2 separate regions of the Homo sapiens genome follow, and region 1 is linked to region 2. A link means that fine-mapping ties the variant in region 2 to the expression of a gene that starts in the linked region. Tissue or cell type: whole blood. Region 2 holds a variant in brackets; the other region holds the start of a gene. All regions are shown on one strand. Distances are between the middles of the regions. Region 1 holds the start of SESN3 (sestrin 3). Region 2 overlaps SESN3 (sestrin 3).

Region 1 (8,473 bases), 20 kb before region 2:
CCTTTTACTCAGAAATTCCAGGCCTAGGAATCAGAGATTCTGCCAGAAACTTAAGTATAAGGAAGTTTATTTTGTTATTTACAATCATGAAAAATCTGAAACAACCCACATATTAAACAATAGCATAAGGATTAAGTAAGTTATGGTACATCCAAGCCATGTAATTTTATGGATTCTTTGCTTAAAAAAATTACACTTTAAAAGAATAATTCAAAACAAGCAACATGATTATGAGATAACAGTTTTGAAATGATGTACAATGTTTAATGAAGTATCATCCTAATTTTGTAATAAAAAATTAAAAAGTAGTTCTCAACATTGGTTGTAATTTTCACTCATATCCTACTTTTCTAAAGTTCTTTCTTGTTTTAAACATACCAGACAACAAAAGGGGTGGAGTTTCTCCTTGTTCTATGTGCAATAAAAAGAACTGGCTTTTGTTTCTTTTCCTCTTAAGTGCGATCCTGGGTTTGAAATAAAATTCCCTTTATAATATTCAGGCTGGCCAAGAAAGGAAGGAAGGTCAGGTGAAGAATGGAAGAGAAAGGAGATGTCCAGAAACTGAACATTTCCATGAGAGAGGAGAATAACTATGATGGGAATGAGGGTGTGAGGACAGACCAGAAAGGGTGGTTGCTGTGTTAAGAATAAGGTACTGGCATTGAGTAGTTGAGGGCAGAACATAAACACATACATAATGGTTCACTGTAAGAAATGTCACAATGTAATACATGATTAACTGCCAAATAAATAGCACTACAGACAATACATATTATAATAGTTTGGAGGAATTTGGTGCAGAGAGCCATCATATGGTCAGATACATGTATGTGACCATGTATTATTGAAGATATTCATCTACTAAAATCTTCCTTTAGCGATCTTTGTTAGAGGGTGTTATTGTATAGGACTAGATTCTCTCGGCTTTCCTTTCTGGAGGATTTAGTTACTGAAGAACTTAAAGGAACTCATTTCGAAAGGATTTTAGCTGTCAAGTGAAAAAAGAAAAGAAAAGGTTATAAGAAGAATGTGCTAGAAAACAATATGAATTTAAAATTCTATTTGAGAAAATTCAATCTGCACAAAAATTCACTTCATCCTTCAATTTCTCCTTTCCTTTAAAATGTACTCACATAAAATCTGCTTTAAAAGCCAGAACCAGCCAGGAATATAGCCCAAGAAATTTACCACTAAATGGGGACACATATGTGTTTCTTAGAAAAACTGTGCCTTGCTGACTTTCTCCCTGCATTTCTTGGTTCTCTGCATCGAAGGGCATGTGGTAATTCCCTCCTTTTCTGAATTTACTTGCTTTTACAGTTTCTTCTAACTGAATCTTAAGCACCTTCCCCACACCATTCATTGCTCTTTAGTTATGTATGTCTACACAGCATCAAGCGACCTTTAGCTAACACTGGCTAAATAGATCAACACCTTTACCCAACTACATAACTTAGACCCTTTTGGGGTTTTCTACTCTATTTTGATCTATTTAAACCTGATACTAGCAGATTTCCATTACCTTTGTTTCTTGTGTAGACTTGGTTTATATGTGTTGGTCTCTAAAAAGGGACAGAGAGGAGACAGCTGTTGAGAAATGAGAATGGCAGTTTTAACCGCACAAATTGGTCTAATAGCTTTGATATGCTAAACTTGCTAGCTCCTCCAAGTGTACCTTTCCGATTTTGCATAACACCACCCTGAATCCCTAAGGAAACCAGGGTTGTTGTTTTTTTTTAATTAAAAAGAAAAGAAAGAAATGCAAACCAGTGAAACCGTTCTTTTAAATCATCTCCACATAGATTTCATTCTACGAACTTCAGGCCTTCACAAATCCTGGTACGCTGGAGACCTTTAAAAAGGGAGAAGCCGAGAATACTGATTAGGTTCTAAAAATCGAAAACAGGTGATGTCATAATGCACAGTCCTGTGGCCACGGCCATGGCCGGGTGGGGAGCTGGGCTCCAGTGAGCACAGAGCTCCTTGCCAGTAGGCGATGCAAGTTATCTCTGGGGCCCGGAGGACACGAGTGAGGACCGGGCACCAATCAGGTTCTCGCTCTGCGCCGGCCTTTGTTCTCACTCGGGAGCAGGTTGCGGGCGTCTAGCATCGGGAACCCGCATTCGACTCGGACGCGCATTGCTAGCCCCTTCGGGAGACCTGGCTCCCCTACCCGTCTGTCCCGCCACACTCGGTCAGCCTGCGCTTTCCCCAGTCAAGTCTGCCTTCTCTCCGCAGAACGTGGACGCTAAAACCCTGACTTACCATTTTAAGCTTTAGAAGAGGTAGGTTTGTCCCAATAGTTTTAAACGACAATTTGTTCTCTGAACCTTCCTTTCTGAGCAGGGCGCTGTGCTCTGCATGTATCCGAACAGCTGCCTCAGGAAGGTCTTTTGGGTGAGAAAACAAGCCCCTTTGGCCTTTTAGTGCTGGACAAGTAAATGAACTTACATCTCTAAGATAACTGCTAGAAGGTGCTTCACAAACAAGAGGAAACCGCTAAACCAGAGGTTTTGTGTCTCTCCCCTCAAACTCGATTACTTGCGTAAATATATATATAACTCAGACATTTATCCCCTATCCGCCTCCCAAGCCTCAAGTAACTGAAATCTTTGCAAAACAAGGTTCACAATAAATGATGCGTAAAGTTCTTTGAGATCCCTGGATACAAAGTACTACATAACTGCAGTCTTCTTTACAGCTAAAGTTAGATTTTGGTGGAGAGAAAGCCTAACCACTGCCCTGAAGGAAGGAACATTTAATCCTCCCACTCCCCTCCCCCTTTCTCGAGAGATCAGGAAATATTTAGCTCAATCTTAGACTCTCTAGCGAGCTCTAGCTCCCAACTATTTATCTCATTCTCCTCACCACTTCTGCAGGGACCTAGAGAAGGGGGCGTAGCTTATCTTGGGGGTGGGGCTTGGAGGGCAGTATATTTGCATATGACACACCCTCGTCCTCTTATTGGCAGAGGAGAGCAAACTGTTCCCTGCTACCCTACTACTTAGCTAACCGCCACCTCCCTTCAGTTCCGAGCCTCGGAGATAAACTTAACTTGCCCGGAGATTCAAGGCTTCCTCGGCCCCTGCGATTGGCCGGCGCGACTCCCAGTCGGGCTCTCGTTGCTCATTGGCTGCGGGCTAGCGCCCTGGGGGCGTAGCCGGAGCTGTCCGATTGGCGGGAGGGGCGGTACCGGAGCGTGGAGGTGGTGAAGGTGGTGGGGCGGCGGAGGCGGGGCCGCACTGAGGCGCTGCGGCGGCGGTGGTGGCGGTGGCAGCGGTGGCGGCTGCTCGTCCTAGCCTGGCGGGGGCGGGGGTCTGGAAGATGGGGGCGGGTGGAACAACGGGCCGGTGAGGAGCAGCCGCCGCCGTCTCCGCCGTCGCTGGGGCAGCTGCCGCGGTGGTCGCCTCTGGCAGTGCCGCTAGCTTTCAGGCAGTCGCCTCTCCTCCCGACATCCCGCCTTGAGGAGGCTGAGGCGGAATCGCGGCTGGCGGCGGGGGGACGGACCGGCCCTGCAGTGGCCGCAGTGACAGCCCGGACCCGGCCCTCCGCCCGCTCTCGCCTCGGCGCCCGCAGCCACGATGAACCGGGGCGGCGGCAGCCCGTCGGCCGCCGCCAACTACCTGCTCTGTACCAACTGCCGGAAAGTGCTGCGGAAGGTACGGGTTCGGCCCGGGGTCCTGCCGGCGAGGGTCGCTTCCTGCCGGCCGGGGCTCGGGCGGCTCGTCCCCGGGCGCGCACTGGGGGAGGCTGAGAGGGATCCCCGGGCACCGTCCCTCCGCAGGGACTGAGAAAGGGGGCGTGGGTTGAGGGCAGGAGGGTTTGGACTACTGCGGCTTTTTATTTCCGCCGGGACAGACCCAAGTCTGGAGGGGTTGGGATATTTTTTCTTCCCTTGTTCCTTTTATTTGGTGCCTTTGCTCTCCTTTACGGCTCATTTCCCTACCTTGCTACCCCGGGTCGGCTCCTTGGGCGGAGGGCGGGAGGGATCCGTTCGATCCTCCTCCCTGTGCAGTTTAGCTGTTGATGGAGGTCGGTGTGAAATCAGAGCAGCTGGGTCGGATCCCGAGGAACCTGGCCCCTCTTTGCTGTGGCTAACTCTTGCGAGTGTTGTTTTTGTTTATTCGGTTGCTTCTGCCTTGCGCGCCTTGCTCAACAACCCCCGTTTTCAAATTGTTTGGATGGTAGTCCTGTGTCTGTAGTTCAGTCTCGAAAGGAACCAGTAAAGCATCTTGAACTTTATGCCCATGGGAAATGCAATTCGACCTGGCCAGTTCCTGAGGCTGGGGTTGGGGGAGGAGAAGACTGAGGTGGATGTGGGTTATTCCTCCTTAGCACCCCCCTGCCCCCGTGTTGATCCAGAAAAATGAGGCGCACCATCAGTTTATTGCTGCTTCCTAGAGTGACTGATAGAAAGTTTACTCCAGTATTGTTTAGCTTACTTGGCTTAATCGCCCCGCGGGGAAGGGCGAGAGGGATGGGGAAGGGAATGAAAAAAAGGTCTCTAGACTTTTTGATCAGATTTTAACAGCTGCCCCAAAGTAATATTATAATCAGTTTATTCGTATTCAAACTCTATTTTTACATTTTATTAAGTGGAAACGTTAGGTGAGATGCTTCTGTTTGTTCACTACAAATGAATTAAAATTGCTGAGCTGTGCAAATGCATCGGGACTGAAAGCGGAGATGAATATGGTACCGTTTTTAGTCAACATCTCTAAATACGGTTCACTTTGGGATTGTTCTTTCTACATTTTTTTTTAAAAAAGGAAGAAAGAAAAAAGCACATAAGTAAGCAAGCTCAAATATTTGCGCTCTTTGTCCAAAAACTGTTTTTCTTCCTCTGTGGGTCAGGCCAAGTGCCAATCAAAGTTGTTTTTCAAGCCTCTTTTCCCTGCAGTAGGGCTGCTGCTTTTTTTTTTCTTCCTATTTTATTTGAGAGCGTGAGAGCAAAGGGATTGCAGATTTGAGGTTAATTGAACAGTTAAATATGCCTTAAATTGTGTTTATTGGATATGTTTCTCTTGAAACAGATTTTTATTAAATGTGCATGTTGAGTATGTGCAGTTATTTTTTTCCATAAACTCTAGGATCAAATTACAGTTGATACTTGCTCAGCTCATTGTAGGGTAGCTTGTGAGAAATGTAATGGATCAGAAGTGCAGATCAGCTTAGTTGGATGTTAACTCTTTCACTGCAGGGCCAGATGTCATCTGAACTTAGCTTTCAAAAAAATTTATTTCTTAATTTTTAAATTTATGTTATGTCTTTGACATGAAAAAATGTGTCATTTAAGACATGTTTGATTAAAGTGCAGCCTGGTTAAAATGACAGCAAGTTATGCTTTTTAATTGAATAAGGAAAAAGAGCACTGTATTGACTTTGATAAAAAAATTTTTTAATGGCTCTGGCAATTTGTTAGGCTAATAAAATGTTTGGAGGTAATATTAGGCTTCAAAATGTATTTCATTTTTCTTTTGAGAGAGCTATGGCTATGGATCCATGACACTTTGCTAGCATTTAAGATATTACATCTTTCCTTTAGCTTTTAGGAAACTATTTCTGTTTACCTAGAAAGAACATCCTCATTTCTAGCCATTATTAAAAGAAACGTGGAAAAAGAGTATTCACATTTTCGTATTTTATAATTGCTGAGCACATCTCTGCCAGTATTCCAGTTTTTAGTAACTCCAAGGTATTTAATATTGATTCATGCAGTGGCATGAAATAACTTAATGGAAATAGGATTCTTTGAGCCAGTTATAACATGACTTGGCAACATTTGCAGCTTTTTAAAGAGTGCCACTTTGAAGTGCTCTTAAGAGAATCAGTATGTAGCATTTTAAATGTTTCATCATTCTTAAAATAACAATGAAAAGTTTATTTCTAATAAAGACATGTTTTTCTTGTTGATATAACTCTAAGTTAAAAGTCATCTATAACTCTCAAAATGTGATTCTTAGAGTTTATCTTGTTTTCCATTTAATAAAGTGTTCAGTAATGTAGCCAAGTGAGTCATAGTATTTTGAATGTTTGTTCAGTCTAATTCATAATGGAAGAATGAAACTCATGCTCATCCAGTGTGAATTACTTTTGCTTTTATATTTCTATATAATGATGGAAGAAGGGTCACCTTTATATGGGACAGAAAGTGTTATTCTCTCAGTAGGTGGCTTAATTTGTTGCAGTGTGTTGAATTTTAGGGGAACTTCACAAGGAATGGAATTCACCTTCAAATGAAATAATATGGTTTAACCCAATGCCTGAATATTGAATTATATATTGTATGAGAATTACATTTATTCTTAGAAGTCCGTTTACGGTTTTGATTTAGTATCCTCCAAAATAAAGAGACTTATTAAAATATTGAATGTACCTAATTTGGTAACCTTAGGACAGTAAAAAGAATGGAGAGGTAAACCATATCCATAAATAAATTAACCATCAAAACTATCCTGAAATCCCTAACTCTTAAGTCTAACTTGCTCTATTGTCAATGAGGTAGTTCAGTAAAGTTTTTAATAAAAGAGGAAATGCTTCTATTTATTTTGTAAAGTTAACGAGTTTTTAAGTTTAATCTTTTACTTGAAGAAATTCTAGTGATAACTAGAAGAACATAATCCTTTAATTTGAAAAGTCATGTGTCAAACTGCATTGAGGAAGGTAGGTAATTATCAGTCCACTCATCTTCCAGTAAATAAAAAAGTGGCATATTCCAATGTACTTTGGGTATTGAGCAGTTAGTGCTACTTAAATGAATAGTTTTGTGCTCTTTAGAGGATCTAACATTTAAACTTTTTTAATGTTAAGATAGTTATAGTGATATATCTTTGTATTGTTATTGCACTTTTCACTTTGTTATATGATCATATATTTTGACATCTTTTTGATGGTTTTATAAACAAAGATACTGTCAAAATGAAAAATACTAGATTGAGGACCGGGCATGGTGGCTTACGCCTGTAATCCCAGCACTTTGGGAGGCCAAGGTGGGCAGATCACGAGGTCAAAAGATCGAGACCATCCTGGCCAACATGGTGAAACCCCATATCTACTAAAAATACAAAAATTAGCTGGGCGTGGAATCGTGTGCCTGTAGTCCCAGTTACTCAGGAGGCTGAGGCAGGAGAATCACTTGAACCTGGGAGGCGGAGGTTGTGGTGAGCCAAGGTTGTGGTGAGCCAAGGTCACGCCACTGCACTGCAGCCTGAGCAACAAGAGCAAAACTCTGTCTCAAAAAAAAAGACAAAAAAAAAAAAGAAAAATACTAGATTGAACTATATGAGCCTCATTTTTATAGTCAAAATTGTTAAGTAATAGCAACTTTATATGGTTTAGCCAATAAAATGTATTTGCTCTATCTGTGGACCACTAGTTACATTATGCCTTGGTTAATCAGTTTTCTTGTGTTACATATTTTTGATTGTCAAAGGCAGTTTTTAACTTGATTATCTTAAATATCCTAAGCAGAGATCAAGTAGTTAATTAGTGATGGCAAACCTTTATGCAATGGTTTTCAAACTGCTTCGTATGGACCCTTAAGATTCTTTGGGGTTTTAAAATGCTTGAGTTGCATTAAATTTTTAAGTATGTTTTAACTTATTTTAAAACTGTAATTTAAAAATATGGGTACCCCCAAATATGTACACATAATTTTAATAACTGGAGTCTAACACCATTATCTTTCATTACAAAATTATTCTTGTGCAGGTCTTGAATTACAATTTGTTCTGCTATCTTTGTACAGATATTTGAATTTTTTTTTGTTACTGTGTCATGTATGAGAAAGATTGTCATTGATTGTGAAGGAACTGGCTTTTTAAAAAGAATTCCTTCCATATTTACTTAAGTTAAATGTTTACTTGTGAGAACACAAATTTATTGTTATCAGTAGTTGTAACTTTATTACTAAAATACTTGAAAGTTGCTTGGTATATTTATATGCTTTATAGTTCAGGTTCAATAGAAGATTTAATTTGTAAAAAGTGTTCTGCTGCTTCCCCCAACTCCCCACCCTAAATAAATAGAAAACATAACTACTAATGTAGTGATACTGGAAGCCACAGATGTGGTTGCAGTTAGGTCTTTAACAGATCTTTTGATTTCAAAGCAGAGTTTTCTCTGTAAAATGTTGATAATTTTTACTTGCCTTACAGATTGCTGTATAGTTGGAGAGAGATAGATGTGTGTTAATGAACTTTATAAACCGTGTAAGAAAGAAAAGGACAAGTCCATATATTTTTCCATTTTCCCAGACTATGTTAGTTCTTTCCGTCTTATGGGAATATATTTCAATACATACTGAGTAATTTGGTTAATACTCACTTTTCTGTCCTGTTTAATTATTGCCTGTAAATGAGAGGTAAAGATTATGCTTTTAGTCAGAATGACTTTTTTTTTTTTTTTTACTTATTTTTGATTTCCATATTTCTGTCTGTATTCCCTGCCCCTTTCCCACCCCTGCACTTAAATA
Region 2 (9,019 bases):
TCATAAAGAAAACTTTTTTTAATCAAAGAAGAAATGATAACATTTGTCCTGATGACAGATTTGGGATTGATATGTTGTTTTTTAAAAATTCTTTTGAATCTCTTGGACAATATTAAATACATATATATATATAAATTATGGATGTTCTCTTTCACCTATAGTAGCTTACTCTTCAATTAAAAATGGAGTGTCAGAAAGTCTCCATTTGGAGACAGGAGGCCTACAAATTGAAACAGAAGAAACCCAAGCCATGTGTATTATATATGGACCATAGGTAAATAGAAGATTGCTCTTTGAAAAGCAAAGATTGTTTCAGTTAGTTGCAGTTCTATCTAGGACAGTAACTATAAGTCATTTTATTTTGTTCTTTGGTTGTATCTAATTTTGAGGTAATGGGTGTTTTCCTCATATTACCTCTAAGTTAATACTACAATTTAACCTGTATTGATGTTACTTATGTGAATAACAGGCTGTATTAAATTACCCCACTTTAATTCCAAAGTTCCTTACGCATGGGCTGCCCCAGAAGCATATGTAATTACTTAATTCTAAACCATGGTAGGTGATGCTTTTCTAGTGACCATTTTTCTATCCTTCTGTGAGGAAAGGGCTAATATAGTACCTTAAATAGAACTGTCTCCATGGCAATGGACAGTCAGCTTTTGACTTTGAATCTCATGAAAAAAGAAAATTTAAAAAGCATTTTCATGGTCTAAAATAGCAGTATGGCAAAAGTAAGGTATGAGAATATTTCCTGTCAGTTATTGCATGACTGGTTAAGGTAGCAGAACTTTTATCTTTTTTTCTTTTTTCTTTTTTACATAGGACTTTTTATTTGAGTATTTTGAAATGTTACCGAATTCCTTCTCTGAATTAATGAATGATAATTATTATCTTCAGATTGATAGAGAACTAGAGAAGCTTAGATATAGGATTGGGTCCATGCCTGAGAAAAAAAGAGTTGCCTAGCTCTGGTTGTAATTTTACTCTCATAAAGAATAAAAATACTGACTAAATTATGGGTCATTCATAATTACATTTAAACAGAGCTATCTCATGGAACACTGGAAGCAATAACGATTAAAAATAAAAGCTTAACAAATTATGCCAGTTTTTTTTCAGCCAACTCCTACGATTTGGGGTCTACAGATCACCTATCCTATTTAAAAGACTCCACTGGCAGCCTGCCTCCCTTGTTCTCTTTTGCATCCACACTTACTTAAAGGCAGAGCCCTTTGATTCTAGCTGCTTGTTCACCTAGCTTTCAGTAAAGGTCAATGACAGTGCTGTATATTAGAAGCTAGAGAATAAGACCACATTGTCATCGGTAATCTTACTTTGTCTTTTTCCTTTGTAAAGTTGTTTGCCCCTTGACTAAATCTTATCTCAGTATAGGGGTCATTTTCAATTGAATCAGCTCTCATCTTTAAAATATCATCAGTAAATGCTTAATACTCTGAGGTTACTGTTAATGAGGGAATTGGTTAAACAAATTATGTGACATAAATACAGTGGAATACTGGGCAACTGATCTATGTATAGAAGTGGACAGACATCCACAATATGTTATTGATTGGAAAAGACCAAGGTTTTTTTTTATTTTTTAGGACTATGAAGATTTTTGTTTTCATTTAAAAAAAGATAAATAAGGAATCCAAAATTAACAGTATTAATTTCTGGGTGGTGGGGTTACAGGAGATTATTTTTACCATCTACTTCATTGTCCTTTGTTTTTAGCAATAAACACATATTTTATAAAAGTTTAAAAAGCTATTACTGATTTGAAATAATAGAGAAGAAGAGATAATTTAAGTGATGGATAGTACAGAGAGCAGATTCAAATGAGATGGCAAATTAAAGATGCATTGAGATAAAGACAAATGTTCACAGGTTTAATAGATATCCAAAGTAGCTATGGGTAAATCACCAAGGGAATAATAATGTGTGTGTAGGAGGCTAATGAGGGCTCAGATGCGTAGACATAGATCAATACAATCTGGAAATGAATGAAGGTACTGTGCCTATCTATAGCATATTTTTTTATGTTGTCATATCAATCATTCTCTTTAGGAATCTGATGTGCTTATTAATATTTCATCAGAATATTAGTTTGTTTCCTTAATTATGAATTCAAGAGATAGCTGCAATTGTATTGCTCTACTTTTATACCATATGGTAGATAATAAAACTTACTGTATAAATTTCAGGAATTTAAATATATAATCTGAGCACTGTGTGTTAATCTAGAGATATTATCTATTAGGAACTGAAATAGAAAAAGATGGCTACTTTATAATATAATGTAATTTTAGAATTATTTAATTAATATGTATGCTAGGATTTTTGAAGACTTAAAAAAGGTGTATGGAGTCTGTCCTAGGTTTTAGAGAGCTTACTCTGTGGTTAGAGAGAAAGATGTTTTCTAAATAATTATAAAGATAGCTAAAAATGGAAAACTATACCTTTTGACTTTTTGTAGAGGTTAATAGATTATTATGTATCTTCACTTGTGAAAGCATGGATAATGTTTCAGTTAATTTAATACATTACTGTATGGAAAAGAAGGGTAGTTAAATATTAAATACTTGTTCTTATGTTTAAGGCTTAGGTATGTGGTTTCAGTGGACTATTTTTAATGATTTTTAAAAATATATATTTGAATTCTCAAAAATGCAAAATGTGTTATAGATAACATTATAGAGTATCTATAACCAGTTATTTTATAAATGGGTGTTTTTTACTTAAGTGGCTTTACTTTCCAATTTTATTTTCCATTTCTAATAGGATGGGTCATTTGTTGAACAAAATATCGAATTAATGACCTACTTTGAGCCAATTGATAGTTTTCTAAACCCAGCCTATTCTGTAAATCTTTTCTTTAGCTTGTAAGACAATTTCTAAACATGTTGTCTAGTTGTGTTATACTAAGGAACTCAGTATTGCATAATTCTAATAACAGCAGTTACTTTTTTTTTTTGAGACGGAGTTTTGCTCTGTCACCCAGGCTGGAGTGCAGTGGTGTGATCTCGACTCACTGCAACCTCCGCCTCCCGGGTTCAAGTGATTCTCCTGCCTCAGCCTCCTGAGTAGCTGGGACTACAGGCGTGCGCCACCATGCCCAGCCAATTTTTGTATTTTTTTTTGGTAGAGATGGGGTTTCACCATATTGGCCAGGCTGGTCTCAAACTCCTGACCTCGTGGCCCACTCGCCTTGGCCTCCCAAAGTGCTGGGATTATAGGCATGAGCCTTTTATAGTTGTATAGATGATGTCACACTCTTAAGAGCTTTACAGATATTTATTCATATAATATTCTCACTGCCTATTTTAATAGCCTTCTATTCACCCACTGCTGTGGGAGGGACTGCCACTCTTGGGTCATGGGGGTGGCTGAACGTATAATACCTAACACTGGACAGATGAGATCAACAGTGGTTTATTAGTCACATATACTCACAGTCCAGGGGAAGAGGACACTGCACACCATGCAGTGCACTTGGAAGTTGTATTCTGGAACAGAATGAACAACGAGGGGCAGTGAGAGACAGGCTTTCTAGAATAAAGAGGGTGAGATGCCCCAAGTTTCTACATGAAGCTATGATTGGCTTGTTTACATGATTGCATGAACTGGAATACTTTTCTATGCACCAGGAAGTAATTAATGATTATCTGGGATATTTATTATTCTTTTCCACTATAATTGTGTCAGAGCATCTTATCATTTCTCTTGATAAAACTGGGTATCTTTTTCTCTGAATTTTTCACATAATGCAAGTGTAATTGTAAACTAGCTGCTTTTGTTTTTTCCTTTTTTTTAGTCTGGCCAAACCTTTGATATAAAGAAGAATGTTTATAGAGTATTATTTATACTGAACTCTATGTCCTAATTAAAAGCAGATTTACCAAGTTTGGGTTTTTCTCATTCCCTTTATCTTGCCTGTGAACTTTGTCAAATTAACTTTTTAAAAATACAAACTGTTTATTAAAGAGTCTTGAATCTAGTATATTGGAATAATAAGTTTCTTTAGTCTTCCTTTCTGTTTTAATAAGAGCTATGCTTAAGTGATGTAGTGGTAGAATGCAAAATGCTCACAGTTCTGCTGTAACACTTAATGAAAATTTGTTTTAATTGATGTATTAGGGAATGATTTGAGCATATCAGTGAATTTTGTGTATTAGGATACATACTTCAAACATCTACCCTCCACCTTAGTTCACCAGTGTATTATGAGCTCCATCCATTCATATCTGGTGTTACATTGTTACGTCTTATTTCAGATCATCCTTCTGCTGCTTCATAACTTACAGGCTGTAGGCCTTGCAGTAACCACTTCCATAAGCAATTTTCTTTTTCAAGGTAGAGTGCCATATACATATATATTTTAATTGTACTTTAAGTTCTGGGATACATGTGCAAGAAGAACGTGCAGGTTTGTTACATAGGTATACATGTGCCATGGTGGTTTGCTGCATCCATCAACCTGTCATCTACCTGAGGTATTTCTCCTAATGCTATCCCTCCCCTAACCCCCTACAGGCTCCGGTGTATGATATTCCCCTCCCTGTGTCCATGTGTT[C/T]TCATTGTTCACCTCCCACTTATGAGCAAGAACATGCGGTGTTTGGTTTTCTGTTTCTGTGTTAGTTTGCTGAGAATGATGGTTTCCAGCTTCATCCATGTCCCTGCAAAGGGCATGAACTCATCCTTCTTTTTTTTTTTTTTTTTTTTTTTTGAGATGGAGTTTCACTCTTGTTGCCCAGGTTGGAGTGCAATGGCGTGTTCTTGGCTCACTGCAACCTTCGCCTCCTGGAATCAAGCGATTCTTCTGCCTCAGCCTCCAGAGTAGCTGGGACTACAGGTGCACACCACCACACCCGGCTGATTTTTGTATTTTTAGTAGAGACGGGGTTTCGCCATGTTAGCCAGGCTGGTCTCAAACTTCTAACCTCAGGAGATCCACCCGCCTCAGCCTCCCAAAGTGCTGAGATTACAGGTGTGAGCCACCACGCCTGGCCAAACATCCTTTTTTATGGCTGCATAGTATTCCATAGTGTATATGTGCCACATTTTCTTTATCCAGTCTATCATTGATAGGCATTTGGGTTGGTTCCAAGTCTTTGCTATTGTGAATAGTGCTGCAGTAAACATACATGTGCATATGTCTTTAGAGTAGAATGATTTATAATCCTTTGAGTATATACCCACTAATGGGATTGCTGGGTCAAATGGTATTTCTGGTTCTAGATCCTTGAGGAATCGCCACACGGTCTTCCACAATAGATGAACTAATTTACACTCCCACCAACAGTGTAAAAGCATTCCTATTTTCTCCACATCCTTTCCAGCATCTGTTGTTTCCTGACTTTTTAATGATCATGATTTAATCATGTGTTTTTGATTTGCATTTCTATAATGACCAGTGATGATGAGCTTTTTTTTCATATGTTTGTTGACCACATAAATGTCTTCTTTTGAGAAGTGTCTGTTCATATCCTTTGCCCACTTTTTGTTGAGGTTGTTTTTTTCTTGTACATTTGTTTAAGTTCCTTGTAGATTCTGGATATTAGCCCTTTGTCAGATGGATAGATTGCAAAAATTTTCTCCCATTCTGTAGATTGCCTGTTCACTCTGATGATAGTTTCTTTTGCTGTGCAGAAGCTCTTTAGTTTAATTAGATCCCATTTGTCTATTTTGGCTTTTGTTGCCATTGCTTTTGGTGTTTTAGTCATGAAGTCTTTGCCCATGCCTGTGTCCTGAATGGTATTGCCTAGCTTTTCTTCTAGGGTTTTTATGGTTTTAGGTCTTATGTTTAAGTCCTTAATCTACCTTGAATTAATTTTTGTTTAAGGTATCAGGAAGGGGTCCAGTTTCAGTTTTCTGCATATGGCTAGCCAGTTTTCCCAACGCCATTTATTAAATAGGGAATCCTTTCCTCATTGCTTGTTTTTGTCAGGTTTGTCAAAGATCAGATGGTTGTAGATGTGTGGCGTTATTTCTGAGGCCTCTGTTCTGTTCCATTGGTCTATATATCTGTTTTAGTACCAGTGCCATGCTGTTTTTGTTACTGTAGCCTTGTAGTATAGTTTGAAGCCAGGTAGCATGATGCCTCCAGCTTTGCTCTTTTTGCTTAGGATCATCTTGGCTATATGGGCTTTTTTTGGTTCCATATGAAATTTAAAGTAGTTTCTTTCAATTCTGTGAAGAAAGTCAATGGTAGCCATTTAAGTGAGGAATTACTACCTACCAGCCAACCCATATGCTCTGATAGTTATAAACACATTTCGCACACTGATGATCATGCAGCTCTTCTTTTAGAAAAAAATGTATTTTTTGGAGATTACATTCTTGGGAAGGAACAGCTGTATTTGAAGTCCTGTCATGATTATATGAACTCTCTACAAAACAGTTACATAAAGTTAAACCTCACTAATATATACAGGACCAGTAATACTTCGTGCTGGAGCTAAAATTATTTAATATATTTCTAAAATAAAAATATGTGAGGACAAGTCCATACATTATTTTGGAGGACTTTCAAAAGTTATTCATACTACTAGATTATAAAGGTTATTCATATAAAGATTATTTAAAAGACTACTCTCACCATTTACATAAAATACCTTAAAATAATCCCTTGATTCATTTTTTTTAAAAAACTAAGGAAAGAAGAAAATCATTGAATACCATAATCCTGACAATAAATAGATTATTATTATTTCTTTTTTTTAGAGTATGGTATGCTTTGTTCACTGGATCATTTATGAAGAACATAAATTAGCTGGGTGTGGTGGCTCACGCCTATAATCCCAGCACTGTGGGAGGCCCAGGCAGGTGGATCACTTGAACTCTTGAGTTCGAGACCAGCCTGGGCAACATGATGAAACCCAGTCTCTACAAAAAAAACAAAACAAAACAAAACAAAAAAAACATATAGTATAGAACATTGAAGAGAATTTTAGACATATTTAAAATTACAGTTCTTCTGCTATTAAATTATGTAAATTATATGATATTATATGATATATATCTACAATAGACCTTTTTCTAATCTTGGTTTTATAACATTTTACCAAAAATCCAGAACGTATCAGTTTATTAATAGGTTAAGTAAAATTATTTTTAAAATAAAACATTTTTTAAACTAGCAAAATAATGGGAAAGTAATTTTAAAGCATTTAGCTTATTTTCTTTCTGAAAACTTTCTACCAGCATTTAGAATCTTTCACAGCATTCTGTATAACCATAGAATGTTAATGCAAAAAGGCCCCACGGAATGTCTCTCATTTTTTAAATGTGAAAATTAATTCCTTGAAAAATGATCAAAGCTCTGATCCTTTCAGTGCTAAGAAGGGAAAATAACTCAGGTTTTAGTACCTTTTTCATCGTATCACCTTACCTCTAGCATTCAGGTATATATTACTTTGTTTATTACTCTTTGGGTGTCTATATCTAATTTTACCAAGTAGTTTGTAAACCCCTTTAGGCAGTTTTTGTACTTTCTGTTCTTAAAAGAGCTATTACATAAGCTGCTTAACAATGAATTTAATTGGTACATACTGATTGGTTGGTTGATTTCTTTGATTTGGAAGTAAGTGTTTTAAACTTAGAATGCCTAGTGCAGGCCTCTGGTGTTCACAGATGTCCTTTCAGTACTTAAAAAGTAGTAATGTTGGCCGCGCGTGGTGGTTCATGCCTGTAATCCCAACACTTTGGGAGGCTGAGGCGGGTGGATCACGAGGTCAGGAGTTCAAGACTAGCCTGGCCAAGATGGTGAAACCCCGTCTCTACTAGAAATACAAAAAAAAATGCCTCTGTAGTCCCAGCTACTCGGGAGGCTGAGGCAGAAGAAATGCTTGAACCCGGGAGGTGGAGGTTACAGTGAGCTGAGATCATGCCACTGTACTTCAGCCTGGGCAACAGAGCAAGATTCCGTCTAAAAAAAAAAAATAGTAATGTTTAGGTGATATGAATGACTGTTTATTTTGAGTTAACTGAAAAACTATTGATTTAGTACACTAACACTGAAACCTTAAGTACAGGCTAAGGATAACAAATCCTGTTATCCTTAGTTAAGTTACTTAAAAAAGAAAGATAAAGAACAGAAAAGGGCCTGAATAGCATCTGTATGCAAACTAATCTGGAAAATGGGAGGAGATATCAAGAGAATGACAAATTAAAGGAAGTCTTTGTGATCATTAGAAGATAATTACTTTCACAGATCTTAATTATAGCATAATTATAGCTTTTTCTTTCTATCAAAAACTGCACTCTGAGAATTTTCTTGCCAAAACAGGAATTGAGAAACTTTGGATGTTATGAAGTAACTCTATTAAATTATAAGAGTGTGTGTGTGTGTGTGTGTGTGTGTGTGTGTGTGTGTGTGTATTTTAGGACTGGCATAAATCCAGGATGCCAAAAAACATTTTAAGGTGGTTATGGTTCAAAAATAGTTCATAATATCATTAAATGTATAATAGGCTGAGTAATATATAGAAATAGTATGTTATCAATCAACATTTATTGGGCACCTGATTTGAATTAGTCATTAAGATAGAACACTTCTTTTATAATTAAATTAGTGAAAGAGAAGATAAACCACTTTTATGAGGTTTATCTTCTCTTTCACAAAATGATACCAGGCATCATATAAATGGGAATCTGGAAGACGGGAAAACTCGCTGTGGGTTTGAATGAGTCAATATACAGAATTTAGGAACTGTGTTGAGGCTTATGTGAAGTGTTCATATAAGGGAACACTTGGAAAACAAAAGTTGAAAAGTTAGGTTAGGGGCCAGAATGTTGGAGATCTTGCCTTTCTTCCTCTACTGTCCTTCCCCCAACTCCACCCCCTCAATAAACTAAGGATAAAATGATAGGCTAAACTGAGGTAGTAGTAGTAGAAATGGAAAGCAAATTAGACTCACTGAGAAGTTTGTGAACAGGTGGTGAGATAACCTAGTATAAAGTTGTTATTAAATATTAGAGTGTAATGTATAATAAAAGTTTGGGTCTTTAAATGCAA

What was found.
Region 1: it holds the start of SESN3, and the variant in region 2 is fine-mapped to the expression of SESN3 in whole blood (INTERVAL, PIP 0.99).

Annotation. Positions count from the first base shown.
Region 1 is chr11:95,225,969-95,234,441 of GRCh38, reverse strand. SESN3 (sestrin 3) reads left to right here and starts at 3,240. Exons shown (of 10, transcript NM_144665.4): 1 at 3,240-3,659. The coding sequence starts at 3,582. LOC100129203 (a long non-coding RNA gene) reads right to left here and starts at 4,256. Exons shown (of 6, transcript NR_110295.2): 1 at 3,947-4,256; 2 at 2,869-3,317; 3 at 2,266-2,390; 4 at 1,768-1,852; 5 at 1,523-1,562; 6 at 38-988. RefSeq lists enhancers at 1,582-2,221, 2,222-2,861 and silencers at 3,217-3,366, 3,377-3,686.
Region 2 is chr11:95,205,728-95,214,746 of GRCh38, reverse strand. All of the region lies in intron 1 of SESN3 (sestrin 3), which reads left to right. Among named protein-coding and RNA genes, the nearest start is that of SESN3, 21 kb to the left of the region's middle. The variant C/T (reference allele first, on the strand shown) is at 4,577.